Regions from separate parts of the Homo sapiens genome. Here region 1 is linked to region 2. Evidence: fine-mapped expression QTL. A gene starts in region 2. The other region holds a variant in brackets. All regions are shown on one strand. Distances are from middle to middle.

Region 1 (15,269 bases), 22 kb before region 2:
CCTGATAAAACTAGGAACAGAATGAATAATAGGAGGAGGGAACTGGAGAAGGAGAAGGAGGAGGAGGGGGAGAAAACAGCACTGCAGGTTACTTTTGTGCAGGAGCATCCATCACCCTCCCAGACCCACAGAGCTTGGGGGCAACTCTACCCAGTACAGACACCAGAGACCAGGCAGCAGCTGACTACAGGAGGCATTTCTAAACCTTATTTGTGGCTCTATTTTATATTTTTTCAGCCTTATTTATGTTTTTCCTTATGAGAATTTATCCCTTTTAATATTTTATACATCATTCTAAACAAGACATAACTCAATCATCAATCAAAAATCACTGCACTGTATAATACCCAACTTCCACAGTGACGACCCTGAGTCATTAATAAATTATTACACTGCCGATTTTCTGCTTTGATGGAAAAGAAGTACACAAGATATTTTAAGCCTATTTCATCACAAATGATAAGGGGTTTTTTTTGGAGGGGACGGGGAAGGAGGAGACAGGGTCTTGCTCTGTTGCCCAGGCTGGAGTGCAGTGTCATAATCACAGCTCACTGCAGCCTCAACCTCCTGGGCTCAAGTAATCCTCCCACCTTCTGGGATTAAAGGCATGCCCCACCACACCTGACTAATTTTTTTTAATTTTTTTTGTAGAGGTGGAGTTTTGCCTTGTTGCCCAGGCTGGTCTTGAATTTTTGGACTCAAGCAACCCTCCCACCTCAGCCTCCCAAATATCAAGGATTACAGGTGTCCACCACCACACCCAGCTAATTTTTGTATTTTCAGTAGAGACAGGGTTTCACCATGTTGGCCAGGCTGGTCTCGAACTCCTGACATCAAGTGATCCACCCGCCTCAGCCTCCCAAAGTGCTGGAATTACAGGTGCGAGCTACTGCACCCGGACTGAAAATGATTTTAAATTCATTCTGCTCAGAGGCCGTCAGGAGGACAGACCATACTGACAGGCAAATGCAAGCACCCCGTTCACCTCAGCTGCAGCAGGATGATGCCACAGCGGTTGGTCGGATTAGAAAGGACTCATGCCATCGGCCACGCAAAGCAGCAGCCTCTCTTCCTGCACTGATTCTGTGTGCCCCAGGAAACCTGTGGCAATGTGACTTTAAGTTGTGCCTGAACAGAGACAATGTGTTTATAACAACGCAAACATCCGCTTGACCTAATATTTCTCATTGTAAGTTAATAAACTATCTATTAAGAGTCATTTAGTGTGTACTAGCTGAGTCTGATAAACTGTGGAACACTGATAAGATGGGGTTTTGGAATCCCTAATACTATCCATGGTAAATTACCCCTTAGACTATGGTAATTCAACAAGAGATAATGAGCATAGGCCCTAACAACATGATCTAGTCAGTTCCTTCCTTATGGGACACCAAATGAAACTAATCTGGCTGTCAGCATTATTAAAATTACAGGACAGTCTCACCCATGGAGAAGTTCACCTGCAACTGTGCAGGCTTCATTAATAGCAACTTCTGTTCACACAGGCTGAGAAGTCAGTGGTGACCCCTGGGTCATGGGAGGGGGTGCCCTGATCACCAGCACATGTAACAGCCTTGGCAGCTCACAATGAAAAACACAGGTTTATAATATTGGAATTTAAAAGATTCCTTTGTGTCATTCAGACAAATGTGATACACACACACACACACACACACACACACATATATACACACACACAAACAATGGAATACAGCCATCCCTCAGTATCCTTGGGGGACTGGTTCCAGGACGACAATCCTCAGATGCTCAAGTCCCACAGTCAGCCCCGCAGAACCTAAGGATGTGAACAGTTGGTCCTCCGTATCCACAAGTTGTGCATTGCTTAAACACTGTTATTTTCCATCCAAGGTTGGTTGAATCTGTAGATGCGAAAGCTAACTGTACTACTCAGCCCTTAGAAAGATGGAAATCCTGCCAATTACAACAACATGGATGGTCCTGCAGAACTTTATGCTACATGAAATAAGCCAGACACAGAAAGACACATGCTACGTGATCTCACTTACATGTGGAATCTAAATAGGCAAACACATGAAGCACAGAGTAGAATGGTGGTTGCCAGGCGTTAGGGGAGACAGTAATGGGGAGGTGTTGGTTAAAGGGTACCAAGTTTCAGTTATATGAAATAAATATCTGGAGGTCTACCGTACAGTATAGAGCATATGATTAACAATACTGCGTTGTACACTTAAAAATTAACCAACAGGGAAGATCTCATGTAAAGTGCTCTTACCACAAAAGGAAAAAAAAAAAGGGTGGGCAAGAGAAAACTTCTGGAGTGATGGATAAGTTTATGGCAACAACAGTGATGACAGTTTGATGGTTTCATAGGTGTAAACTTCAAATACATCAAGTTGTATATATTAAATATCTACAGCTTTTTGTATGTCAATCACAGCGCAACAAAGCAGTTCTTTTAAAAAAGATTCCTTTCTCATAGTGAAGATAAAGGGGAAACATTAAAAAAAAAAAAAAAAAAGATTCCTTTGGCTTCTAGTTCAAAATGATGACCTGAGCCCATCTGTTCACTTTTCAACCAATCCAAACATCACTGGAAAAGCAGCATAAAAATTAGAAAGAAATAAACTTACAACAGCAGAGAGAATAGGAAGACAGGGAAAAATCAGAAGGAATTCCAGTGCGCTTCTCGGTAACTGAAGGTGTGTGGAAACAAACTGACGGATAAAATCGAGTGGAGAACTCTGTCCAGGACATGCTATAACAGGGCTGCAGGGAAGATGGAAACCACCTGAATCCCAGAGAGGATTCCGACTCAAAATTAGCATGCAACTAAAAATAGGTAAATTATAGGAAGTCTGAACAGAAAGTTATACAAATCCAACTCCCTTCCCAACACAAAGTATAAAGCCCTCCTGGGTGAGCTAAGACTTTTAGTTGGTGCTCTCAAGGAAAGTCATCCTTATGCTGGCACTGGGGGGCCTCCTTCCCTCCAGAAACAAAGTCTACCACAACAAGGAAGGAGGCCCCCAGTGCCCTACTGGCTGCGTGTGTCTGAAAGCCCCCAGCCAAATTTCCTCTTGCGGGAGAGGCCTGGCAAGGAATACCACCTTACGCTGCACAGAGGAAACCCAACCTGGTTACCCAATCTTTCCTTCCTCAGTGTAAACTGAAGAACAAAAGTGACGACAATGACAATAGCATTTATGGCACATCTGCTATTTTGCCTGTGATGACGATGACAATGACGATAGCATTTACGGCACATTTGCTATTTGCCTGGCACAATTCTAAAAGTACATGTACTAAATGATTTAATGTTCAATACCTCTAGCAGTTGGATATCATTATTATTAAAGTACTTTGCAATTAGGAAATGAAAAAGCCAAGATTCAGCCCAAATCTGAGCCAGTGACCAGGCTCTTTATCACCAAGCTAACCTACCAACATACAAGGAAAGCTAGCAGCATCAAAGACCCAAGTATCTTTCACAGAGGACTCAGACAGGTATGGGACCAGCATATAGGGCTTAAAAAAATAAGTATACTCTTGGATTTATGAAAATATATCCTTAAAACAAGAGCAGGATGTTATGAAAAAGGGAAGTCAAAGAGTTAAAAAAAAAAAAAGACAAAAAATGATGGGTAAACACAAAATCTAACTCACAGTCCCAAAAATAAAGTTGAAGAGGCCTCTCAGAATATCAAACAAAGTAGACAAAAAGATGGAGAATATGGGAGACAAGGAAAATCCAGAGGTCAGTATAATAGAAGTTGTAATAAAAGACACCTATGAAAATGTAGGAAAAGAAATTTTGAAAGAAATATTAAAGAAAATCTCTGAGACCAAAGGATCCAAGTCTTCAGTCGGTAAGGGCCCCCATTAAGTGTTCAACATAAATTAATATTTTTTTTTTTTTTTTGAGACAGAGTCTCACTCTGTTGCCCAGGCTGGAGTGCAGTGGCGTGATCTCGGCTCACTGCAACCTCCACCTCCCGGGTTCAAGTGATTCTCCTGCCTCAGCCTCCCAAGTAGCTGGGATTACAGGCACCCGTCACCACGCCTGGCTAATTTTTGTATTTTTAGTAGAGACGGAGTTTCACCATGTTGGCCAGGTTGGTCACAAACTCCTGACCTCAGGTGATCCGCCTGCCTAGGCCTCCCAAAGAGCTGGGATTACAGGCATGAGCCACTGCGTCCGGCCATTAATAATCATTTTTAAAAGACCCTCCCTTGGAATATTTTTGTAAAACTTCAGAACACAAAGAATATATATAAAAAAATCCTAAAAGCTTCCTTAGAAGAAAAAACAGGCCAGCTTCAAGAAACCAGAACCAGTCCAGCACCAGGCTCTGCATTCCAGGTGCCTACAGGACAATGCCTTCTACATTCTCAAGTCAACTGACCTTCAGACATGGATCCATCAAGTGGTTTCTAGAAAGTTTACCTCCTACATTTCCATTCCTTTGAAGATATTACAAACTTCCTCTAGCAAAACTAGAAAGAGAACCAAGAAAGAACAAGTAGAAACTGGAAAACAGGGGGCCCACCAAGAAAGGGGAAAGGCCTCAGGTGATCCCTGAGTCCTGGGCAGGGAAGCAGAAAATTAAATTGGGAGAAAGTGAAAGGTTCCAAAAGACAAGGGAGAGTGTGATGCAAAAGACAGTGTAACAAAGAAGACAGAAACATCTGAGCAAATGATGAAACCCCACGATCCTTTTCTAAACAACAAAAAGAAAAGGAGGCTGGTTGCGGTAGCTCACGCCTGTAATCTCAGCACTTTGGGAGGCTAAGGTGGGAGGGCTTCTTGAGCCCAGGAGTTCAAGACTAGCCGGGCCAACATGGCAAAACCCCACCTCAACAAAGAATACAAAAAAATTGGTTGGGCGTGGTGGTGTGCACTTGTAGTCTCAGCTACTTAGAAGGCTGAGGTGGGAGGATTGTTGGAGCCTGGGAGGCGGAGGCTGCAGTGAGCTGAGATCACACTACTGCACTCCATCCTGAGCGATAGAACAAGACTCTGTTTCCAAAAAACAAAAAGAAAAGGTGATCACAAAATTCAGGAAATGTAAAATGTAATATAAAGAAATCATGATTCAAAGATGAAATTAGATATATAGCAGTTTTTAAGCCATGATTGGAGTACACATTTGCCTTAAATCAGAAAGATCTACAAAACATGATCTTTGAATGGGCTGGAAGCCCTGAAACCATGTGTAGAGATGAAAATGTTACTCTAGCATAACACATATCCCCATAGTAATGATATTTGCTGATTTTTTAAACTTATAAATTCAAATGATAGAAATCAATGGAAAGTCACTTGTGACTACCAGAAAGAATGGAGATGTTTGCAACCTTAATCCTGTAGTAGTAAAAGTTAGGCTGACAGCAAGTAGGAACTGGGGGTAAGGAAAGGGAGGAGAGTTCGGGTGCTCATGCAAGGGGACAGAAGAAGAAATAAAGCTCATGGACATTACCTAAAAATTACAAACACTCTCAATGAAGAACCAAAAATAACTATAAAACACTGGAAATAGTAAAAGGAAGTCCGCAAAATTGGTTAACCAAGAAAAATTCTCACTTCTTTGCAGAAAGTCAACAAATAACTGTCTAAAGTTGTTCCTGGTTATTAGGAGTCAAGAGGAAGAGGGATGGCTCTTGCTTTTCTTCGTGATCTTTTCTGTTTGACTCGTTACATTGTCTGCATATATTATTTAAGTAGAAACATTAAATGTTATCATTAAAATGCTACTCATTTATTACTAAGTCTTCTCACTGGAAGGCTGGTATATCCTAATACCTAATAACACATCTTACTGTACTTATCAAGGCATATTCTCCATTAATACCCCAAAGGCATTCCTTCTTTAAAAAAATAGAAGAGGGAGTTACTACCCTGTATGTCGCCATCATCACTGTATGAGGACATGAAATGCTGGCATTATTCAGACTGACTGACAAAGTTACACAAAGTTATTATCTCTCTCCTCTACCTTACTCTGCCCTTCATAAATCAACCGTGTCTCTTCAGCTGTAGCAAAATGACGCCACTCTATTGGAATGATGCTGCAGTCCTCCAAGTCACCAGATGCTAATTTGCAGTAATTACATTTAAGAATCTGATCTAAAAACCAAGATTGAATATTAAGGTCAGTGGCAAGGAGATATTGATGGGCAAAGTGTGGGGTTTAAAATTACAAGAAGCGGCTGGGCATGGGTGGCTCATGCCTGTAATCCCAGCACTTTGGGAGGCTGAGGTGGGATGATCACTTGAGATCAGAAGTTCAAGACTAACCTGGCCAACATGGTGAAACCTCGTCTCTACTAAAAAATACAAAAATTAGCCAGGCATGGTGGCACATGCTTGTAATCCCAGCTACTCCAGAGGCGGAGGCAGGAGAATCACTTGAACTCGGGAAGCAAAGGCTGCAGTGAGCCGAGATTGTGCTACTGTGCTCCAGCCTGGGCAACAGAGTAAGACTCTATTTCAAAAAAATAAATAAATAAAATTTAAAAATAAAATAAAATTACAAGAAGACATTTAATATAGATAAATATTTTAAAGTCTTCAAAGCCAGTCAAAAAAAAAATAAACTACAAGCTAGAGACCTGATTTGGCAATAGTTTATGGGGGGAAATTTTTTGAGGGAGGATCTTATAATTGATCAAAAGCATGGGACTGTTAGAAAAGCTTACACGGGCAGTGTTCAAATCTCAAACAATCCTATGCTCCTAATCTAAACCACCTTCCTAACAACTCAAGTAGGCTTCTGTTTTGTTTTGTTTTTATTTAACTATTTATTTATTTTTCAATAATCAGGCAGTCTGTCTGAACTGGAACAGGTTCAGAGAGACTCCCCAGGCAGACCTCTGTATTCCATGATGATGGGGCTACCAGCTAGTAGTTCCGTTAGGCGAGCAGCAGCATCCTTACTCAGCAGTACTTGTGAAATCATGGGAATATTTTATTGCAACCATTTTCAAATTCTGTTTCAGAGCATCTTAAGCTCCCCAGGAACCTAGTCCAGGGGAGAAGGTTCGGCTTCCTACTCTGGTTCAATCCTAATTCAACTTTTGAAGAAAAATGGTTCCAATTTTTAAAAATAAAGATTGCCAAATAAAGATTTTAAAACCACTGTTAAAATGCATTTTGCAGCTGGGCACAATGGCTCACGCCTGTAATCCCAGCACTTTGGGAGGCCGAGGCGGGTGGATCACTTGAAGTCAGGAGTTCAAGACCAGCCTGGCTAACATGATGAAAATACTAAAGATACAAAAATTAGCCAGGCATGGTGGTGCACATCTGTAATCCCAGCTACTCAGGTGGCTGAGGCATGAGAATCGCTTGAAACTGGGAAGCAGAGGTTGCAGTGAGCCAAGATTATGCCACCGCCCTCCAGCCTGCGCAACAAATTGAGTCTGTCTCAAAAAAAAAAAAAAAATTTGTTGTAATTTTATAACGAGTGGAAAATAGAAAAAAATGAAAGTGCTCAAATTAATAATAAGCCCAAGACTCAAACTTAATATGGATGAGGCAAAGATGAAAAGTATTAGCTATGCCAAAACTCTTTTTTTTTTTTTTGGCCCCCATCAAATGCTCACTGGCCTCTGGCTGATAGAGTGTATGTTCAATTGTAAAGGAAAACAAGAACATGTAAAGCACATGTGTGAAAACCCAGAAATAAATGTCATTTAAAAAACTATTAATAAAAATAAAAATATAACTAGGGAAATATTTTTAAGTAAGCTTTCAATGAATGGAATCTTCCCTATAACAAGTCTATCATCCTGCTCAAAGCAATATTTTCAGAAATGCTTTTCAGATAATAGCAGGCTATTTGTTCATCTTTAAGCCTCATTAACTGGCGAGATGAGGTCATGGGGGAACAGACCCACTGCACTGCCCCTCGTCAGACCATACCTGCACTACGGGCCTGTCTCAGAAATTCTGCTCAACAGGGATGCGTTCGGAGAGAAGGACATGGATGGTGAAGAATTTGGAAATACCTTATACAAAGAATGGTCAAGGGAACTGGGAACATTCCGGCTGCAAAAGAGATTAAGTAAGAGAATAATTTAATCTACTTCACCCAGGATTTATTGAGGCTCCACTTCACGTTAGGTTCTGTAGGG[A/G]ATTCAAATATGAACAAGACGCCACTTCTGCCTTCATGGAGCTTACAAACCAGCAGTTTCCAAGTATCTGATGGGATGTAAAGTGGAATGACAACCGAGAACTAGGGATTTAAGATGATTTCCTTTATTAATGGCATCTTACACTAGAGATCCAATCTACCAAGAAACCTACAGAGGCTCTAGACATGATCGTAGCTCTTCTATTGCCAGGGCCCCCTCATTTTAGGGTTAAAGGGAACTTCTTACTTTGTAGAAATTGTGGGGGACCTACAGACTGGCAAGAACCCATGAAGCAGAGACGTTTCCAACAAGGTCACAGGCCTTGTCTTACGCGGCTGTCCCTGTGGTCTTGAGACAGAAGCATGTCGGAGCTTAGTCTGTGGAATTAGGTCAAAGAGCCTTTACTGAGAACTGCCAAGGACCAGGCTCCTGAGCAGCTAGTTATAATCAACATCCTTTCTCCCTGGAGTACGCACATCTCCAGGAAGCCACCTGCAATAATAAGCCATGCTCTTGGAAGATAAAAGAACCCCCTTCTTTAGTTACCTCTTAGAGTTAGGCATGTTGCAGACTCCATAAACACATCAGACTGACTTTTAAAGATTTTGACTCCCTGTCTAAAAAGATGCAAGTCAGTAGGAAAAACTGGTCCTTGTTTAAATAATCAGGAATAAAATGTTGCTCCAGATTATTTAATATAGGTTATCATGGCTCAAGAAAACAATTACAGTAATGTCCACAAGCATACTGTAAGAATTAAAATTCAATTGCTCTAAATTTTTTTTTTCAGGTCAAATAGGGAAAGACTATGTTGCTAGACCATTTGGACACACTGCTTTATTTAGACTGACAAAAGCATTACAAAGCGAATGACAAAAATGACTACTAATGGCAACAAGTTAATCTGGGCAACTGAAACCCTGAAAACATGTAAAAGTCGAAAGAAATACATGGAAACCTTGCACTCACTACTTAACAGCCATGTGGGCTGCACAGAACCGTTCTTAGGAACCAAGAGAGTGTACGTGAAAGCGCTTTGAAGATCACAAACCCATTTAGAAATAGGTGGGTTGCTCTTCCTCAAATCTTTGAAAGCTGTCTACTACTATAAATTCATTCATTCATATCTTTCCCTCATTCCTTTCAGTTTTTTAAAAATGTATTCTATCCAACTTACATGTAAGCACTTTGCAAACACTCACTCATTTACTATGAATAACAATCCTACTATATTCACAATTATCATTTCCCCGCTTTACAGAAGAGGAAACTGAGGCACAGAGATTAAACAGTGTAGGCAGGATTCAAACTCAGGTGGTCTGGCTCTACTGTCCTTGCTCTTAACCTAGGCCCACCTACAGTTATCCAGGTTTCTGTTTACTAATCCTCAGCCATCTTCCTCTGATCAGAATCAACATAAAAAATGGTAAAGTGGTCAGAACCACCCAATCCAAATGGTGAGAGGAATCTGAATGGCCATTGCAATTCTTTCCTTCCTTTCAATTGATTTCCAAAGACTCAGGAGAAATTTTATGTCATCAGAAAACAGTTAGACAATATAGAATTCCATGGGGGGGAACCTCTCTAGGGGTATACAAAGTAATCTTTTAAAATGCAAACTGTGTAGGCCGGGCGCGGTGGCTCACGCCTGTAATCCCAGCACTTTGGGAGGCCGAGGTGGGCGGATCACGAGGTCAGGAGATCGAGACCATCCTGGCTAACGCTGTGTATTTTTTTATACTGCAGAAGATTATACCTAGCACTTAGCCCAACACCTGACATATATCAAGTACTCAATTTGTTGAAAGACTGCAATTTCTAAGCATTTTAATTTACTGTCATGCTCAGATACTGTATTTCTGAGAAAAGAAATCCAAAAATATATTAAGTAACACTATGAATTGAGAACACTGGTGTCTCAACTTTTAATCATGCATTCTTTTCCATAAAAATGAGAGCAGGTGCTCCCGATTTGTGCGTGTCTGTGTGTGTTTTAAAACACTACAAAATCCACAGAAATTGAAAACACACAAAAAACAATGAAAAATAATAAATATTAAGCCAAAATATAAGTTCTGGTTTTGTCTTTCTGCACCCCTAGCGTACGTCTTGAGCATTTTCTAGATGTCCACCCCCCGCCACCTTGGAAGACTATGCATGTAGTGAATATTTTCTAATTTTAGAGCATAGGCTCCAGGGTCAGGCTGCCTGCGTTCAAATCCTGGCTCACCTTTTAACATGGTGTGACCTGGGACAAATCATTCATCTATCATGGTCCTAAGTTTCTGCATTTGTGAAATGGAGACAACAACAGTTTGTGCCTCACAGATGGGTGGCGATTAAAATTATGTAATGTGTGAAATGTGTTTAGCATAAAACAGACGTTCAAGGAATGCCGGATACACCAGAACTACAATCTAATGCAAACTGCCTACTTTATAAATGGAGACAGGCTGGGCGTGATGGCTCACGCCTGTAATCCTAGCACTTTGGGAGGCCAAGGTAAGCAGACTGCTCGAGCCCAGAAATTCAAGACCAGCCTGGACAAAATGGCAAAAATCTCTTCTCTACAAAAAAATACAAAAATTAGCCAGGTGAGGTGCCCTGCACCTGTAGTCCCAGCTACTCAGGAGGCTGAGGTGGGAGGACTACCCGAGCCCAGGAGGTCAGGGGTGTGATGAGCCATGATTGCGCCACTGCACTCCAGCCTGGGTGACAGAGCAAGACCATGTCTCAGAAAAGAAAAATAATAAATAAATAAATATATGTGTGTGTGTGTGTGTGTGTGTGTGTGTGTGTGTGTGTGGTCTGTATATGGAGACAATGAGACCCAAAGATATTATAAGACTACCCAGGCCATACAGCTGTGTACCTCAATGTTTTTTGTTGCTTTTTTTTGAGACGGAATCTCGCTCTGTCACTCAGGCTGGAGTGCAATGGCACGATCTCTGCTCACTGCAACCTCCGCCTCCCAGGTTCAAGCCATTCTCGTGCCTCAGCCTCCCGAGTAGTTGGGATTACAGGCGCCTGCCACCACGCTCGGCTAATTTTTTGTATTTTTAGTAGAGACGGAGTTTCACTATGTTGGCCAGGCTGGTCTCGAACTGCTGACCTTGTGATCCACCCACCTTGGCCTCCCAAAGTGCTGGGATTACAGGCGTGAGCCACTGCACCTGGCCTGTACCTCAATATTAATGAAAGCCAATGTTCTCCCAGCTCCAGACCAGGGCTCTGTTTATGGCATACCACTAATTCTGGACAAATGGGACACACTCCTGGAGTTCCCTATCTTTCTTTCTGTTTTCCTTTCTAAGGCTGATTTTGAAAAAAAAAAAAAAAAAAAAAAAAAAAAGAACAAGACCTCAGTGGCTTTCCTTCGGTAACTATTTGGTATTAAATTTATCCACAACCTCCCTTAACTATACTCTCATAGTGCAATCCACATCCCAAAAATGGCAGGACACTGTTACCACGGCACACCAAGGAGAGCCTGGCTCTGTGGCTGGCTCATCACTGCGCCTGAGAGCTGATGTGGGTGGCAAGAAGACACTGCTAGGAAGTTAAGAGAGCTATGATTTGTACATTCCAATGCATGTACATTTTTCCTTAAAAAAAAAAAAAGACTTACAAAGTAGTAATAAGAGGCTGGGGGTGGAGTGTGAGTGGAACTGTAGATGCTGTAAGAATGGTGGAATGTTAATAGTTGCTGCAGGTGATGAGACCGCCATGGAATTTAGCTTAATATTTTCTGTACATTGTATATAATTTGAGATTTTTCCATTATAAAGTTTTGTTTTGTTTTTAATAAACAACATGGCAAAGTAACAAAAAGACAGCAAATGCACAGGTCTCATGGATCCGAGGAGATGAAGCTGATAGGCAGTCAGTAAAACTATAGATTTAGAAAAAAATTGTTTGAATTCTGCATTTTCATTATCAAGTGACACTTGAAGTATAGGCATATCCTTCAACCATAACAACCACAGTCACTTTTCCCAAGTATTATAAAAACATATTAGAATGAGCTGGCTGTCAATCCACATATGGAGGGCTGTACTACACTGACAGATGGACACACTCCTCCCTAACACACCACAAGAAGAACAAACATTCCCCTTCTCCTCTGAGCACTTCTGTTACACTTCTTGGACCTCACCCATAGACAGGTGAGGCTGCTCTTAAGAAAATAAGCTTTGTCTTCTATACAGAAGTCCAGGCAGTTGAAGGATCGATGGCAGGCTGTTTCCTGGGCCCAGAGGGCTCCTTCTACCCCTCCTTGGCTGGGCTACACATTCACATCCATGCCTAGAGAGGAACCTCAGCAGGAAGCTGGGGCTGAACCAGCCACCTGACTGATGCCTCCATTCCAAGAATCAAAGGAGATGAAGGCCCCACATCCTGAACCTGAAAAGAAAGAGCTCTCAATACAAATCCTACCTCTTACAGTGATTCAACCCAGTCCTTCGACACAAGAACTATTGTACTGGGCTCCGGGTGAGTCTAAAGAGTTAGATACTACCTCTGTCCTCAAGGAGATCACATTCCAACGGAGGAGTCCAGGTACAGTCATCAGTAACCAAAGGACCAGGGGATAAGGGCTAGAACAAAGGCATAATCTTAGAACTATGGGGACAGAGAACGGGAAGTCTGTCTTGCTGGCAAGGAAGAGATATGAATGGTGCAGGAGGGCTAATGGACACCAGCATCTGACGACTGCAGAAAAGCAGGTTAAGAGCAAAGAAAGGCCACGGCATTTTTCTTCCTTCATAAATATACAGGCAGCAGTCTTTCATTCTACCTAGAACTTTTCAAAAAAGAGTTGCAAATGAAGGGACAAGTCCTGAGAAATACAGACTCCAATTGTTTGGTGTGTTAGTTAGTTAGCTTTGCAGTTCTTTAGCAAATGTAAATAAGAGGAAAACTCAAAAATAATACAAGAATGGGTTTCAGAAGATCCAATGCCTGCAAAAGTCCCCAAGAAACTGGTCCCATTTTCAGTTCAGAGAGGAAATACAGGAAAATAGACAGGCAGGAGGCATTATGCAAATTAAAACTGTAATCTTCACCACACTTAATCCTGCCAAAGTAATTATGGTTCTCTCACATTTTACAAATCAAGAAACACTAGTCCACACCGAGTCAGTAGGAGGGTTTTTTTTGGAAATAATCTAGTGGAAGCCAGGCAGCATGCAGTAATGACAAGACCTCTGGCAAAACTGCAGTGCATAGAGCCTCCTATGGGAAATCACCTGCGGGCTGCCTGGGGCTGCTACAGCAAGCATGGAGCTGTCCTGCTGCTCTTCTGGGTGCTGGAAAGAAATCTTGGGGGAAATGAGCGATCACTCTCCAGCCACAGAAAGTGACCAAAGAGCCACAACCCACAAGCTGATGTCACACTCTGATGTCAGGATGCTCTCTCCTACAGAGACCTGTCACTCAGTGATTCATGCGAGCATCCGATCCTCAACACTGGGTTCTTTTAAAGGCCTGGTGGCAACACTGATCAAAGATGCTACGGAGCCAGATGAGCAGAGCGCCTACAGGGTGATTTTGGCACAGAAGCAGAGGTAGGTCCACCCCAGGAAAAACTGCCAATTCTTTCAGGTTTGTTTTTGGCTTAATTGCCTTTCCTTCTCTGAAGGGAGAATTCCCAAATTTATTTCTAGCCCAGACCTCACTCCTGAACTCTAGACTTAAATTCTATTGCTTACTCTACATCTCCACTTAAAGGTCTGATGAGCGCCTACAGCTCAACAATACTCCTGATCTATGCCCTGCCCCACAATCCTGAGCCACTCACAGCCCTCCCCATCTCAATCAACAGCAATTCTGCTGGGCACGGTGGCTCATGCCTGTAATCCCAGCACTTAGGGAGGCAGAGGCAGGGGCAGGAAGATTGCTTGAGCCCAGGAGTTCCAGCCTGGACAACATAGTGAGACCCCATCTCCACAAAAAGAAAAAAGCTAATGAAACTGAAAGAAAAAAAAGAAAAAAAATCAGTCTCAGTTTCTAGTTTTCCTGTTTCTCAAGCCAAAATCCTTGGCGTTATCCTTGACACTCCCCTTCACCACTCTGCATCAGCAAATACTGTTGTTGGTTCCGCCTTTCAAATACATCCAAAATCTCACCACCGCTGTTGCTAACACTCTGGCCCAAGCCACCAGCATCTCTCATCTAAAATACTGCATTTGCATCCTAATTGGTCTCTCACCTTCCTCCCTCGACATATCAGCTCCTCCAATTTGTCATTAACACAGAGTGATCCTTCCAAAACCTAAGTCAAATCATGTCATACCTCTACCCAAAGCCCTCCAATGGCTCCCATTTCCTGCTGTCAAAGCCAAAGTCCCTGCAATGGTCTGCAAGGCCCTATGTGACTAATGCCCTCACCCCTCCCCAGTTACTCCCAGTCCTCATCTCCTACTACTCCTCTTACCCCTGCACCCCTTACTTGCCCTGCTCTAGCCCCCCGCTGGCTTCCTTGATGATCTCTACATCTGCCAACCATGCCCCATCTTAGGACCCTGGTCCCTCAGCCCATTTCTGCACATAGCTAACCCCTCACTGCTTGGGGCCATGTGTCAGTCTCTGAATGAAGCATACCCTAATCATCCTTTAAAAGTTGCAGCCAACCCATCCATTCTCTAGTACTCCAATGCCCTTGCCCTGTTCTATGTTTTCCTCTAGCACTTATCATATTTGAATAATAAACTATCATTCACATACTCATTATGATTACTGTTTTTCATGGGCACTTATGAAACAAAGCTTCACAAGAGCAGGGGTTTTGCTTGTTTTGTTCTGGAAGAAAGCCTGGCCCACAGTGGACACTTAATATGTTTGTTAAACAGGCAGATCCAACAGGATATTAGGTGTGTCAGAAAGGAGTATTTCAGAATTCAAAATCCTGGAAGCAAAGCATTCCAGGTGATCACGAGGTACAAGGTGTGGCCACAGGTGTGGGCTGCTGCAGAGTGGTGCAGGGTGGAGGAGGAGAACAATGAGGGAGAGGCCGGGAAGTGTGAGGCGGGGCTGCTGAACAGGCTCTCAACAGCCCAGGATATTCACACTACACGGGATGAAAGCAGGAGATCCAGGGGTAAAGAAAATGGTGATCCAGATGTGCGAGTCTTCGAGGAGTATGCAACTATATC
Region 2 (15,269 bases):
TGTTTGTCTTTTTTGAATCACATCTTTTAGATGAAATTAGAAAGCCTATTATTTAAAGCAGCCCTAACAAAAAAAAAGCACTCTGTTATCCAAATAATAATCTCCTAACTGTATATGTTGAGACTCTGGATTCCTGTACACAGGCTTCTTAAAGTAGAGCAGATTTATAGTTTCAACACGAGCCTAAGCAAAATCCAGTACAGAGGGTAAAGCTGCTATCAAAATGAACACTGCAATTCCTAAAGCCAGATTTTGGAGTCTTATATGGGATTATCAACACTGAAGAGAGTTGTTACTAAATTTGGAGACAGAGTGAGGAATAGAAGCAGTAATATAAGGTAGGGAATGACCTTAAAGGGAAACTCTAAGTAATCTCAGGACTGTATGATTTAAGTGACTTCTGCAGGGGAAAAAAATGCTTTCTACACCAATATGACATGGCATTATTAGAATTTTAAGACTTGATTTTGGTTTTTGGAGACAGGTTCTTGTTATGTTGCCCGGGCTGGTCTCAAACTCCTGGGCTCAGAGACTACAGGCATGAGCCACCATGCCCAGCTAATTTATTTTTTGTAGAGACAAGGTCTCACTATGTTGCCCAGGCTGGTCTGAGACTCCTGGGCTCAAGCAATCCTCCCACCTCAGCCTCCCAGTAACTGAGACTACAGGGAGGTCTCAGTGAGGCTGTGTCACCGTGCCTGACCTAAGACTGAATTTTAGAGAAGACTGAGCCTCTAAGAGTGCACTAAATGAAAACAACTGTGCTCGGAAGAGAACACATTAAGGAGTTATTGCCCATTAACACAGAAAATGAAGTCATCTGTCAGATCCTTTGCAACTGGATTACTGGAGAAAAGCAAGGCCCCTCAAAACAGAACCACGGGTAAGTAAATTGTGGCAAGAGGAGAGTGAGAGCTCAGCTTCTGGTACTGATAAAGAGAGAAAACCTGCCGAACCACACGGTGAGGCAAGCCGGAAGAGCCAGGTATGACAAAAGAGCACTTGGAAACAGGCTGAAGGTGGACCAAAGAGAAGGGCTCTGAGTGGATCCCCAAAACGGACTATGCCTACTTCAATTTCAACAGGTCTGTTCTTAAGAGTTACATTCTTCCTGTTCACATACTGGCTGCCTTGAATTGCAAGCCAACATTCTATTTCCTTTGTAGAAATATCATTGTGCTTTCCCCTTATGTCAAACAGTATTCATAACATTTGTTTTTTTTTTTTTTGAGATGGAGTCTCGCTCTGTCGCCCAGGCTGGAGTGCAGTGGCATAATCTTGGCTCACTGCAACCTCTGCCTCCCGGGTTCAAGCCATTCTCATGCCTCGGCCTCTTGAGTAGGTGGGATTATAGGTGCCTGCCACCACGACCAGCTAATTTGTGTATTTTTAGTAGAGATGGGGTTTCACCATGTTGGCCAGGCTAGTCTCAAACTCCTGACCTCAAATGATCCGCCCGTCTCAGCCTCCCAAAGTGCTGGGATTACAGCTGTGAGCCACCGCGGCCGACATATTTCTGTTTTTCTGTTCCCTAATCAGTCAAACTCAAGCAGAAACTCTAAGCTTTCTTCCCTTAGTGGCATCATAGTATTCCCTCTGAGAACACTGAGAACAAAGAAGTTAGGTTATTAACTTCAACATGCCCAGGAAAGTAACTTGCTACTGGAGGAGAATTCCACCCTGAGACTGCTGGCTGTGAACACCATTCACAACCAACAGAAGGTGTTTTTCAAGGGTCCCACGACCTGAGAGGATGCCACTACAGCTTTGCTGTGACATGGATTTTCCAATTATGGATCCTGTGAATCACCGACACAAAAGTTATAAAACAGCAAATCATAGTTACGTATTCAAAATGCCTCTGAAATCTATCCATCCTTTTACAACAAAAAGAAACAGCTTGGGATTAACGATACTTCAAGAGTACGTAGTACACGGTCTGGCACAAGCAGAGCATAAATAAATGTGTGTTTAACAGTTTGGGGTTTTTTGTTTGTTTTGTTTTTTGAGACAGGATCTCACTCTGTTGCCCAGGCTAGAGAGCAGTGGCGCAATCACAGCTCACTGCAGTCTCAAACTTTGGGGCTCAGACGATCCTCCCACCTCAGCCTCCTGGGTAGCTGGAACTACAGGCACACACCACCACACCTGGCTACTTTTAAAAATTTTTTGTAGAGATGGGGGTCCCAACTATGTTGCCCAGGCTGGTCTTGAACTCCTGGGCTCAAGTGATCCTCCTGCCTAGGCCTCCCAAATTGCTGGGTTTACAGGTATGAGCCGCCACACCCAGCCTATGTTTAATGGTTTACTGGTCAAATGAAGGAATAAATGAAATATTAAGTCTTTTGTAATTTGCCTTTTGTACTAAAGGCACTGAAGAGTCTTATTTATCTTCTTCCCTCTGCATCTGCTTTCTCTGACTGTATCAACGTTTCTCTGCCCACATTACCAAACGCCTCTCTCCTCCACAGCTTTTGTCACCAGCATCAAAAAGAAGCATCAAAGACGACTTCTGTGGATGGCATCAGCAGACACCTAAGTTACAAATGTCCAAACAGGAGAGTCCCACTCTCCTGTTCCTCCAGATTAAAATATTTCAGCTAAAATACTCTGCCTCCTTTACACCTCATTCTTCGGGCTATTTGCTTGTTTGGGTTTATAGTTTCAAATCAGTCTGATTCACTGTCTCTTGAGTCATGGTGCCACTTGTGCACACACAGTCTAAAACTGTTCAGCCCTAAGAGGATCCCCTGGAAGGATGTGTGTTGAGGAGGCTGAATCTGCCTACTCCCACCTTAACCAATAGGCAGCCATTCCTGCACAGATTAATCACTTTACTTCCCCAACTCAAGTGACAACAATACACTCCAATAAGGTGACCCTGATTTTCAGTGTCTTTTCCACAGATATGTCTAAGTGATTTCAATTCATTCCCTCACTTGTTTGTATTCACAACATACTTATATTTCTTACCAGTAATGCAAACGTAAAACAAGTTTTGATCTTGGGGCTCTCCATCATGCTCAATGAGCTCTCCTCATTGTTCATGCCACTCTTCCTGGCTCCTTCAAACCCTGCCTCTCCGCTACACTCTTTTCAGTAACTTTTCAAGAGTTTAAAATAATCATCTATTGGCCAAACGGCAACAACCACCTTTCTTACCAAATCTACTTCCTCCTGAAACCCTTACTCTGGATTACGTGCCCACCTTAATACTCATCATCTGGGGGGATTCACTGTCTTTATCCATGCATGAGGGGTCTGCACACTGGTAGTATTTACATCTGTTTCAAGGGCTGGACAGCTCACTCTAGCATGCGCAGGAGCTGGCACAAATAGGTAATGGATAAAAGATGTAGAGACATACAAAGGATGGGTTAGTATTGTTCTTCTCTTCAATACAGACATTTCAGTGTCACAAGAACACCAATACAATGAATACAAAGTGGATGAGGCCTCAAGCCAATACATCTGGCCCTTTTTTTTTTGTCTATGGTTGTACCCATGGATATTAAACCCCGAAGATAAAATAAGATCCAAGTACTTGTAAGAGTCCAACTTAGGAAAAATTAACTTTACCCCACTTATTTATGGGGCGCCCATTATGTGCAATTCGTTCAACAAATACCAATGACTACCTATTATTTTAAGACATTTTGCCAACTGTCAGGAATAGAGAAGACATAGTGTCCCTGCCCTCAGAGATCTTCCAATTTAGTGGAGATACAGTTAAATAACAGATACAGCAACACTGTGATAACTCAAGCAAAGGGGCTGAGTACCAGGTGCACAGGGAACACAAAGGGTCTCCTAATCCAATTAAGATCCAGTCAGGATCCATTGTTCCTAGCACAGGAGAAGGGCAGATACAAAAGACGATGTGAGCAGAAGAGTGGGGCAAAGTCCTGAGTGTGGGGCTTTGGGGCCTGCAGGGCACTGCACCTTACAGTCCTCCTGGGGGAATAATCTAAGTACAGAGATGAAGATGACTCAGAACAAGGCAAGCTCTCCAATCAGTGTCCTGGGGAGTGTGGTTAACTAGGAGGGCAGGAAAGATAAAGATTCCCAAAGAAGACATGGGGGATGGCTGGTGGAAAACAGAGTCTGACCCAGTAACAGAAGAATGGACACATGGGATGGAAGGCATTCCTGCCATGGCACTGACATGAATTAAGCTGTAAAAGAAGAGAGAATAGCATAAGAACTTGCTCCAGGCAAGTAAGAGCAGAAGAACCATACTGAACAGCAAGAGGAAAGTGGTTGAGGGGCTGATTGGCTTCAGAATTAGGTAACTCTTATGTCAGCAGAATAACCAAGACACACAAATGCACCTCCTGAAGAATCTGATAAATATGCTTACCGTGGCAATGGTGCCCTCGCAAGAGTACTAAACTGGTAGTCAAGAGACCTACTGCTGATTTGCCGCCAGTCTATCCTCCTGTCAGATGAGCTGGGTGAACGTGTGCAGTGTCCATACATGAGTTGGGAAATAAATTTAGCAATTCACAACCATCTTTTTTTTTCTTTTTTATAAAAGTGAAATAGGCCAGGCGCGGTGGCTCACGCCTGTAATCCCAGCACTTTGGGAGTCCCAGGTGGGCGGATTATGAGGTCAGGAGGTCGAGACCATCCTGGCTAACACGGTGAAACCCCGTCTCTACTAAAAATACAAAAAATTAGCCGGACGCGGTGGCGGGCGCCTGTAGTCCCAGCTACTCGGGAGGCTGAGGTAGGAGAATGGCGTGAACCCGGGAGGTGGAGCTTACAGTGAGCCAAGATGGCGCCACTGCACTCCAGCCTGGGCGACAGAGCAAGACTCCGTCTCAAAAAAAAAAAAAAAAAAAAAGTGAAATAAAACAACATATTCTGCTATGTGTGCTGCCCATAGAAAAATTACTGTTTTGTGAAGCATTGGCTTCAGGTATGTGGATACAGACGTGTATGTGTGCTTGATCAAAACGTAAAATGTGTTTCTTACTGTGAGGTTACAGTCAAAACAGTTTGAAAAGCACAAGACATGAGGATCTATAAGGTTCCTTCAAATTCTAAGCTTCGCATGCAGCCTTCAAATTCTAACCTTTTTTACAGGTGAATAAATTAACTTAGATATGAGTTCTGGTATAACATTAAATAAATCATGGGCAATCTTTAGACATACCATCAGATAATTCAAAGTTATCCGAAACAATTACCCTTAATTCAACTGATACACTATCAGATAATTCAACATTATCCAAAACAACGCCCCTTAATTCAACTAAATATGACCAAAAAAAAAAAAGTTTCCAGGAAATAACTACACTCCACGTAAGCTGTAACACAGACACACCTGTATATTTGGGGCAAAGGGTGAGCCATGTGAAAGGCTTTCATTGTAATGTGGACATGCACACACAGAAGCAATGTTCTATGGAAACTCTTCAATTAAAAAATCTACTCAAGGTAGGATTTTCATGTTTCAAATTTTAAAGATCTAATGCCAACCTTATTTTTAATACCTTTGCCAACAGCAAATTCTAGCAAGCTATAGACTGTGTGTGACACATACTTTTGAAACCCTTTACTGGAACAGGTGGCTTTTAACTACTTACAGACTCTGACCCAATGCATCTGCATATGATACATTCTCATCTGCCTAAGCCACTTTCGAAAAGCTATAATCCCAATGAGGGCATCCCCTTCAGGACTTCAGGAGGGCATAAACATGCAACATAGAGCAAATATTAAGTACTTCCCTGTTGGACAAGCCATTTTCCCAGACAGGCAAGGAGTCACTTAGGAACATATGCGTGAGTACGAATGAAAAAAAAAAATCATTAACGTTGGTGATGTGCATAAGCAAACAGGTTTTAGATAAAAACTATAGAAGGGTCCATGGCGACAATAATGCCCGGTGTACTTCCTCTGGGGACTCTTTCATCTGAAGAAATCAAATCTCATCATAGACATGGCCTCAGGTTATTTTCACCATCACTGCTATGAGGCAGGTCGGAAAGGTCACAGATACCCAAACTGGAGCACAAACAGGTAACCTGACCTGCACATGTATAAGACTTTTGTCTAATAGTGAATAAAAGTCAGGTTTTTGGTTTGCTTGTTATAAAACAACCAGGTCTAACCCCTAAACCATGCCCCCAGTTTGTGCCTGGCTCACAGATGGCCCACCCTAAACACTTTTCAGTCCTTCTGTGAATGCTAATTTAAGGTCAGAGATTTCCCAGCCCCTGCAAGTTTCAAACTTATCCTGGACTGTTATGGAGGCCGTGTGGAAGGTGCCAGGCCCACAGCTACCAGCTAACTTCCTGCCCCACAGTGCCACTACTTTGCCCCACCAGGAGGCAAACTCCCCGCTCCACCTGACGCTCCAGCTGTTTCCAAGGTTGCCCAGACATTGTCCTGCCCGCACTTTACAACCAGAAAGTCTTTTAGAGGCCATCCTGTCTCGCCCACTGACTTTACAGGGAAGGAAACTGAGTCTAGAAACCCATGTGCCTTGCCCAAGGTCACTTCAGCTCGTACAAACGAAACTCGAACCAAGTTGTTTCTTTCTGCCCGGTACTTAAGCACCCACACTCTGCCACTCGCGGTGACCGGAGCCACAAAAGACCCAGCCGGTGGGCCGGCGACACACAGGCGAGCCAAAGCAGGCAAAATTCTCTGAGTCCGAGCTCTCCAGGAACCTGAAGGCTGGCGCGGTTTTTGGAGAGGGTGGGAGCAAGCCAGGGTGGGACAAGAAAAGCGAATTTACGGCGGCCAAGGGGCTCTCCGCTGGCCCTCAGCCCCGGAGGAGGGGCCCCTCTCCTGGCAGGCCGCCCCAGGGGCCCCAAGAGACCCCCACCCCGCCTCCCCACAGCTGGAAGTCAGGCCTGGCGACCCCGGCAGGCTCACCGGGTGCGCAGCGCCTGCCACGCGGCGTCGATGTCGGCGTAGAGGTTCTTCTCGGAGGGCTTGCCCGAGCTGACGCCGTATCCCGAGTAGTCGTAGGAGAAGATGTTGCAGTTGATGCGGGAGCCGAGGCCAATGTAGAAGCTGCACATCTGGCCCAGGTCCACGGCGTTGCCGTGCGAGAAGAGCAGCGTGTAGCGGCTGGAGGGCGCGCAGCGCACGAACATGCAGCCGAGCCGGTTGTCCCGGGCCGTGCGCGAGAAGAAGACCTCGACGGCGTCCAGCTCGCGCTGCGAGTACTGCCAGTCGGCGCGCTCGCTGAGGTGCAGGCTGCACGCACCGGGCCCCGCGCCCGCGCCCTCCTCGGGCTGCTGCGGTGCCGGCTGGGCCGCGGCGGCGGCGGCGGTAGCCTGGGCCGGGGCCGGGGCGGACGCGCCGGCGCCGCGCTGCTCCGGCGCCAGCACCGTGTAGGTGGGCTCGGGCGGCAGGAAGGCCAGCTTGGCGGCGATGCGGCTCGGGCAGGGCGGGCAGCAGAAGAGCCAGCACAGCTCACCCAGCGAGAAGCCGTTCATCCTGGGGCCTGGCTCGGGCATCGGGACGGCCTGGTGCCCGCCGCCGGCCCGGCTGGCTGGCTGGCTGGCTGGCCCGGGAGGACGGAGGACGGACGCGCGGCGAGGGAGCTGGCAGGCGAGCGCGGAGGGCGGCTGCAGCCCGCCCGCCCGGCGGCAGGAGGAGGCGGAGGCGGAGGAGGGCAGGAGGCGGGGCCGGCCCGGCGGGCGCGGCGCTCGGAGCCCGGGCGGGTCAGCGGCGGCCCCGGAACCCAGGCGAGGCGCGGGCGGCCCGGGCCCGCGCGCGGCACACAAAGCCGGCGGCGGCGTCCATGGCCGGCTCGTGCGCGCCGCCCCCCGCTCCCGTTCCCGCTCCCGCACGCCCGCCGCCGCCGCCGCCGCCGCCGCCACTTCCGGGTTACCGCGCGGCGGCGCCGCCGCTGGGACGCGGCGCAGAGCCGGGCATCGGGGCGGGGCGCTGCGGGCAAGGGCGCGGGCACCTTCCCCGGCCTGGGAAGCACCTTCTCGACCTGCGGCCGACGGGGGCTTCCAGGCGGCTCCGGGGCCCGGAGAAGCTGGGTGCCGGGGCTGGGGGCTCTGCGCCCGGACAGCTGGGCCGATCTGCAGAGGGGACCCTGGAGGGGGTGCATGTGTCCCGGGGTGGACCGCTCCCCTCCCCTCCCCCTGGGATTCCCTCCCCCAAATCCAGGTTTCTCCCGTGGATGGAGGTTCTTGGGAGTCTACTGAAAAGGAAACTAAGGGGTGGACAAGAGTTGGAATGTGCCCGAAATATTTGGCTCTCGTGTGTGCTGCTTTCTGAACTGGCTCAGTACCAAAAGTTCTCAGCACCGTAAGGGGTACCGGGGTTGTGGGATAGGGTGGTCATCAGTGTGTTTCTTATTAGGAGAGGCTGTTTCTGTATAGGTAGCAACAGCGTTTCCTTTCTAAGGGCATGGTTTTACCCTTAGTACATTTCTGTATCTATAAAAGTCAGCTGTTAGAACAGGAGGGTACTGTATTTAGCAACAAACCATGTTGAGGTTGTCATTTCTAATCCCACGTGTGGCAGATTTTCCGGTAGTAAGTATATACTAGGTATCGTTTACAGTGTTTGTGTCTCTAGAGTTGTTTTGGGTCCAGGATTTTTCAGTGGTCTTAGTCATGAACGATTCTTATACTGCTTTAAATCTACTGTAATCTTGGCAGCCACCTTTACATGATTTTTCAAATATAACTCTCGGTGCCTTGAAACTGTGCTCTGGTGCCAGTTTCCACAGAGCCTTCTATACTTCCTTTTTCCCGCCTGATTTGGCAGCTGAAGAATTCCCTTTCAGGAACTGACAGGAGATACCCTTCCTGGACTGCCAGCAGGGCAGCTAGAGACTGGGAGGTTGGCACAATCCCTACGCTGGGTCTGTTGTTTTAACTCACAGATGTCCTGAGAATTTTACCTTTCGTTGTGACTTTCCACAGGACGAATATTTTGAGCACCGTCATCTAAATGAATTGCCGATACTGATTTCATTAACCTTCAGGACCTCGCTTTTAATTTTTTCTTTTTTAAGAGACAGGGTCTTACTGTATTGTCCAGGCTGGACTCCCAACTCCTGGGCTCAAATGACCCTCCGGCCTGCCTCCCAAGTAGCTAGGACTACCGGCACATGCCACCTTGCCCAGCTAGGACCTGGGTTTTAAAAGGCCATTTCTTCACTAAAACAATTTTACTTGTTTTTGAACTATTCAAACTTGATTTTTAAAAACCTGGTAACAAAGCCTGTCCAGATTGCATATTTGAAGTCTGTTTTGAAGGTTTTCACACTTGGTGAAACTCTTCACATAAAGCCCAATTCTAGCTTTGCAGGTTTGCATTTCCTTTTTTTTTTTTTTTTTTTTAAAAAAAGAATTTTTCTGCGAAAATCCTTTAAAAAGAAAAAAAAGCTTTATACAGCTGGGCACAGTGACTCACGCCTGTAATCCCACCACTTTGGGAGGCTGAGGAGGGTGGATCACTTCAAGTCAGAAGTTCAAGACCAGCCTGGCCAACATAATGAAACTCCGTCTCTACTGAAAATACAAAAATTAGCCGGCCATGGTGGCGTGCACCTACAATCCCGGCTACTCAGGAGGCTGAGGCACGAGAATCACTTGAAGCTAGGAGGCAGAGGTTACGGTGAGCCGAGATCATGCCACTGCACTCCAGCCTGGGTGACAGAGTGAGACTATGTCTCAAAAAAATAAAAAGGCTTTCTAACTTGCTACACATTGGTATACTTTGGTCACTTTATTGTATTCAGCATTTATGTATGTAATGTTTTTTGTGCTCACAGCATCCACTGTGTTAGGTGCTACAGCTACCAAGGTGAGTAAGATAGTCCCTGCTCTCAGATACCTTACAGTCTAATTAGGGCATCAGCAGAAGATTCAAAACAGTTTTTATGTGCCTTTAAAAAAAATCAAGTCCTCATAAAAGCTAAGAAGATGGTCTTGCGTCCTGATTCAGTGGTGATATTTCTATGGGGAGCTAAGGTTATAGTCGAGTGCATTAGTCCCTAATCTAATTCAGAACAAGAATCAAACTTTGGGAACTGAGATGAAAGGGTATCTAACAGCCCCCTAGTCAGTCTTTCTCAGATACCACTCCTCTCACCTGTCCTTTATAAGAATTGAATAGCCCTTAGTTCATGAAAGGGGGGAATGATGAGAGTCTCAAGTACTCGTCTTCTGTGCTGCTGATGGAAAAGACAGTCTTTATATTTCAGATGGCCTGGCAGCAGTGTTAGCATTGTTAGAAAAATCTAAAAGCTAGATACTTGTTTATTTATACCTGGTCTCATTCCACAAGGGATTTGTGGAGTGTGATTCAGTATAATATAAATACATAAGCAAATAAATAAAAGCCTGGCTTTTGTTTTCATTCTATTACAAGGCTACACAGAGGTGGGCTGAAAGAGCATTTATTCCCCAGGAAAACATGTTGGTTCAGGTTTGTGTAAATATTCAGTTGAGACCCTAAAATTATATGCCGTAGAGTGAAGCTACCAAGCCTTTCTTATCTCATGCCACATATAGCCAGTGGTAGAGTTTCTGTAGCCCACTGACATGAGACGTGCTGCCCAGGGGATAAGAGGTTAAAGATCTCAGCACGTCTCTAACATCTAACATCTTTAACAACAAATGTGTTAGTGTGCCTTGTCATGTTGGTTTGGAAACTTTAACATACAGCACATAAAGAATGCATTTGCCCTATAAAATGTGAAAATTGGGGATTACCAGCTGTCCACTTTGACCTTAAAGCAGCAGTCTCCAACCATTGTGGCACCAGGGACTGGTTTCATGGAAGGCAATTTTTTTCCATGAAAATCCTAGTTAGATTCTCATAAGGAGTGCGCAATCTAGATCCCTCGTATGCACTGTTCACAATAGGGTTTGCACTCCTATGAGAAGCGAATGCTGCCGCTGATTTGACAGGAGGCGGAACTCAGGCAGTAATGCTCACCCACCAGCTACCCACGTCCTGCTATGTGGCCCAGTTCCTAACAGGCCACTGACCAGTACAGGTCCACGGCCCGGGGTTTGGGGACCTCTGCCTTAAATTTCTATGTCATTCTGATCATCCTAGTAGAGAAAGATCTAACTTTGAGTTCAGGTCAGCAAACATATTTACTCTGCTAGGTACTTATCATGAGTCAGTCACTGAGTTGACTTGGGAATGTAAAGGTGGCTAATGCACAGCTCCTCCTGCCCTCAACAAGTGCATTGTATGATCTGTCTCTTAGGTAACTCTGTATCCTGCCAAGCCAGCCAGTATTGATGAACTAAACAATATTCCACATAACTAAATACCCTGATCTCTATTACTTAATATTGGCCCTTTACACACTGAATTTTGGCTTCCACACTAGTCAGCTGGATGTGGAGTTGCTCAAGACCACTTTTATTTGTAAAAGTAGAACCAACTTTTGACCATAAGAGGATACTCATGCTTAAAAACAGAATCTGGTTGTCTTGATGGAATCTAAGGTAATGTTGCCCCATTGTACATTTTTTTAAAAATTTGGGACTGGATACTCAGTGAAATCAGGGATCATGTGTATTTTGTTCATCGTTTCCCCTATGACTGGCATAGAGAAGATGCTCAGTAAATGTTAATTAAATTGCTAAATTAAAGAATGAGAGGCCAGGTGCAGGGGTTCCCACCTGTAATCCCAGCACTTCGGGAGGCTGAGGCAAGCAGATTGCTCGAGTTCAGGAGTTTGAGACCAGCCTGGGCAACGTGGCAAAACCCCATCTCTATAAAAAATACAAAAAGAAATTAGCCAGGTGTGGTGGTGCACTCCTGTAGTCTTAGCTACTCCAGAGGCTGAGATGGGAGGATCACTTGAGCCCAGGAGGTCGAGGCTGTAAAGAGGTGTCATCATGCCACTGTACTTCAGCCTTGGTGATAGATCAAGACCCTGTCTCAAAAATAATAATAAAATAAAAGAATGAATGAGTGATTTAGTGAATGCTTCCAAAATACCAAGCCTGTTCCTTCTGGTTTGGGCAGTATTATTGGAGTTATGGGCTTTGAAGAAGATACAAAGTGGTCCAGAGCCAAGGCCAGCATCACACTGTGTCCTCTGGCTAAGGAATTGTGACATTCTCTCCATATTTATTACCAATAGAGCTCAAATTTTGTTATGGTAACAATGTACCCAGTTAAGATAGTCACTCAACCTCCCCTGCCATCAGGATGGCCACATGACAGGATTCTGTCCAATAGGCCCTAACTGGAGAATACTGGGGGATCTTCTGGAGAGACTTTTAACAGAGCCAGGCTCAGCTGTAATGTTTCCCTTCACTTTTTTTTTGTTGTTGTTCCTGCCTGGGTTGCAGGCATTGTTTTTTGAGCAACAGCAGCCATCTTGCAAGCATGAGGGTAAATTTCACAGCTGAAGATGGTGGTGCAGAAAGATAGTCTATTTCCTTCATGGTTTAATAGCTGCCCCGATCTCGCCTGTATTTGTCGAGGCTTCTTATGTGAAAAAACTAAGTCTTTTTATGTCATTGTAGTTGGTTTATTTGTTACCTGTAACCTAATGCAGCATTAACTGATTCAGGAATCAGAAGCAAAGATCTTACATTGTTCTTAACTGCTTTCTGAATAAGGACAATGAGTACTTTGTTGATCGGTAGTGGAACAGTGTGCCTAAATCCTGCTTGCCCCTCTGTAGAAAAATATTTAAGTATGACTGACTAAAGATGGGAAAACGTTTTAAGGAGATAACCAGTAAAGTAACAAATCTGAAATGTGAAAACATGAAAAGGTTATAATTTTTAAAATAAATGATACTTTGAGGCTATTCCAGAAGTTCTATGCTGACATTAATTAGGATAAGAGGCCTGCCATTCAACTAAACACTTTTGGAGGCAAAATATCTTTTCCCAGAATCTTTTTCAGTCTGAAGGCCCTTATCCAAAGGGTTGTAAATGAGATGACTGGAACCCAGCCGGGGAGAGCTCTGAGATCCACAAACCGCTGAGAAAGCACTGCAGAGATAAAGATTGAAAGAAATAAAACACCACCCACCCACAGAAATGTGTTTTCACAGTTCCTATAACCACGGTCATTCCATGGATGATAATGCCCTCAAACCTGCATTTCTGACTCATCTCATCCAATCTCCTATTCATAGATTCTTAACAGGGGGTCCAGAGTCCCTGAACTTGATGACAGAATTTCGAGTTGGTACAGTACTTCATAGGATCGGTGTCCACCTGTTTTTCCCTGTGTAATCGGCACCAAACATCATATCCTAGTACATAATGGGAACATAAAACACCTTTGTCACTTGATTGGAATTAAATTTCTGGTGATTTCCAAACACTTAAAAATATGCAAAGATGTAATAGACTGGATTTAAGTAATAAGTAAATTTAAACTTAATAAGTAATTTTTTAAATGGAAAGTGGGAAGGAGCAGCCTCTTATATGCTGAGTTTGCAAATCTAATTTTAAGATGATGATGAACAATATCATGGCATCAATTTTAAGTGTTTTTTAAAAGAATTTTGGATAGTTGCACATTAACACAATATACATGGATGATTATAGTGTTATTCCTGGAAATTTTTAATAACAAATGTTAAATGCATGTTCCAAAAAATAGTAATACCAGCATGAGACCAGAGAGAGAAACCAACAGGACCTAGCAGTGTATAAGTATTTTGCATATGATGAAGTTGATATTTCAAATCAGTGAGGATACATTAACATATTCAATTAGCTACATATTTGGAAAACATCAGTTCTGATGGATTAAAAAATCAAAGATTTATTTTTAATGAAACCAAGAGACAACCAAAAAAGAAATTTAGATAAAAATTCATGGGCTGAGTGTGGTGGCTCATGCCTATAATCCTAGCACTTTGGGAGGCCAAGGTGGGAGGATCACTTGAGACCAGAAGTTCAAATATAGTGAGACTCCATCTTTACAAAAATAAATTTTAAAAAGTAGCCGGGTGTGGTGGTGCACACCTATGGTCTGAGCTACTCAGGAGGCTGAGGCGGAAAAATTGCTTGAGCCCAGGAGGCTGCAGTGAGCCATGCTTGTACCATTGCACTACAGCCTGGGTGACAGAGTGAGACCTTGTCAAAAAAAAAAAAAAAAATTGATAACATAAATTTTCAGTCTTCTCTATACTAAAATATTTACAGATGAGATGACATGGTATTAAGGATTTGCTTTAAAAAAAAAATCATCTGCCTGGTGCTGTGGCTCATGCCCGTAATCCCAGCACTTCAGGGAGCCGTGGCAGGTGGATCGCTTGAGCCCAGGAGTTTCAGACCAGCCTGGGCAACATGACAGAACTTAGACTCTACCAAAATTACTGAAGTTAGCCAGGCATGGTGGTGCTTGCCTGTAGTCCTGGCTACTTGGGAGGCTGAGATGGGAGGATTGCTAGAGTCCGGGAAGCAGAGGTTGCAGGGAGCAGAAGTCACACCAGTGCACTCCAGCCTTGACGACAGAGCAAGACCCTGTCTTAAAAAGAATAATCAAATCAAATCAAATAATGTGAGGAGAGGGTGAGGAAGGAAGATAGACAAGAAACAAGATTGATTGGCCATGAGTTGATAATCGTTGAATCATGGGTTGATGGGTATATGGGGGGTTGATATACTGTTCTCTACTTGTGTATATGTTTGAAAATTTTCATAATAAAATTTACATATTTTTTAATCTTCAGGATTTTGACAAACTGGGCAAAAATATTTGCTACAAATTCATTTTTTTTTTTAAAGTCAAACACCCCACTGGAGAAAAATTGTCAGAATAAATGACCAAGCATTTTATAAAAAGGAGTACAGATGGCCAATAAGCATATGAAAAAATGTTTAGAGTCATTAGTTTTAAAAAAGCAAATTTGAAAAACTGTATTTTTTACCCCCTTCGATTGACCCAAACTAAAAGATCTTTTTCTGAAAACGAATAAAGACCACTAGCACTCTGTTGGACATGGTGCTGGAGTGCAGGCACTCTCATATACAACTTTCTGGCAAGAGTGTTAATTCGTATAACTTTCTGGAAGGAAATTTGGCAATATATATCTAAAGGCTTAACAACATACCTTCTGGTAATCCAGTAATTCAGATTGGAAGTTACTCTAAGGAAATAACTCATTTCTCACATAGATTTTAAATACTAGGATGTTTATGACAGCATTGTTTATCATAGCCAAAAAAAAATTGAGAACACCAAAAACTAAAGTAAATAATAGTACAGACAATAGAGTGATATGTGCCATTAAAATGGAAATTGAAGAACCGTATTTACTATGGTACGAAAATATCCACAAT

Evidence for each region.
Region 1: its variant is fine-mapped to the expression of ABHD17C in whole blood (TOPMed, PIP above 0.99).

Annotation. Positions count from the first base shown.
Region 1 is chr15:80,709,553-80,724,821 of GRCh38, reverse strand. All of the region lies in intron 1 of ABHD17C (abhydrolase domain containing 17C, depalmitoylase), which reads right to left. Among named protein-coding and RNA genes, the nearest start is that of ABHD17C, 22 kb to the right of the region's middle. The variant A/G (reference allele first, on the strand shown) is at 8,116.
Region 2 is chr15:80,687,639-80,702,907 of GRCh38, reverse strand. It overlaps ABHD17C (abhydrolase domain containing 17C, depalmitoylase), which reads right to left and starts at 7,598. Exons shown (of 3, transcript NM_021214.2): 1 at 6,889-7,598. The coding sequence starts at 7,478. RefSeq lists silencers at 6,775-6,834, 7,255-7,304, 7,395-7,814, 7,835-7,944, 7,965-8,124 and 1 more and an enhancer at 6,995-7,064.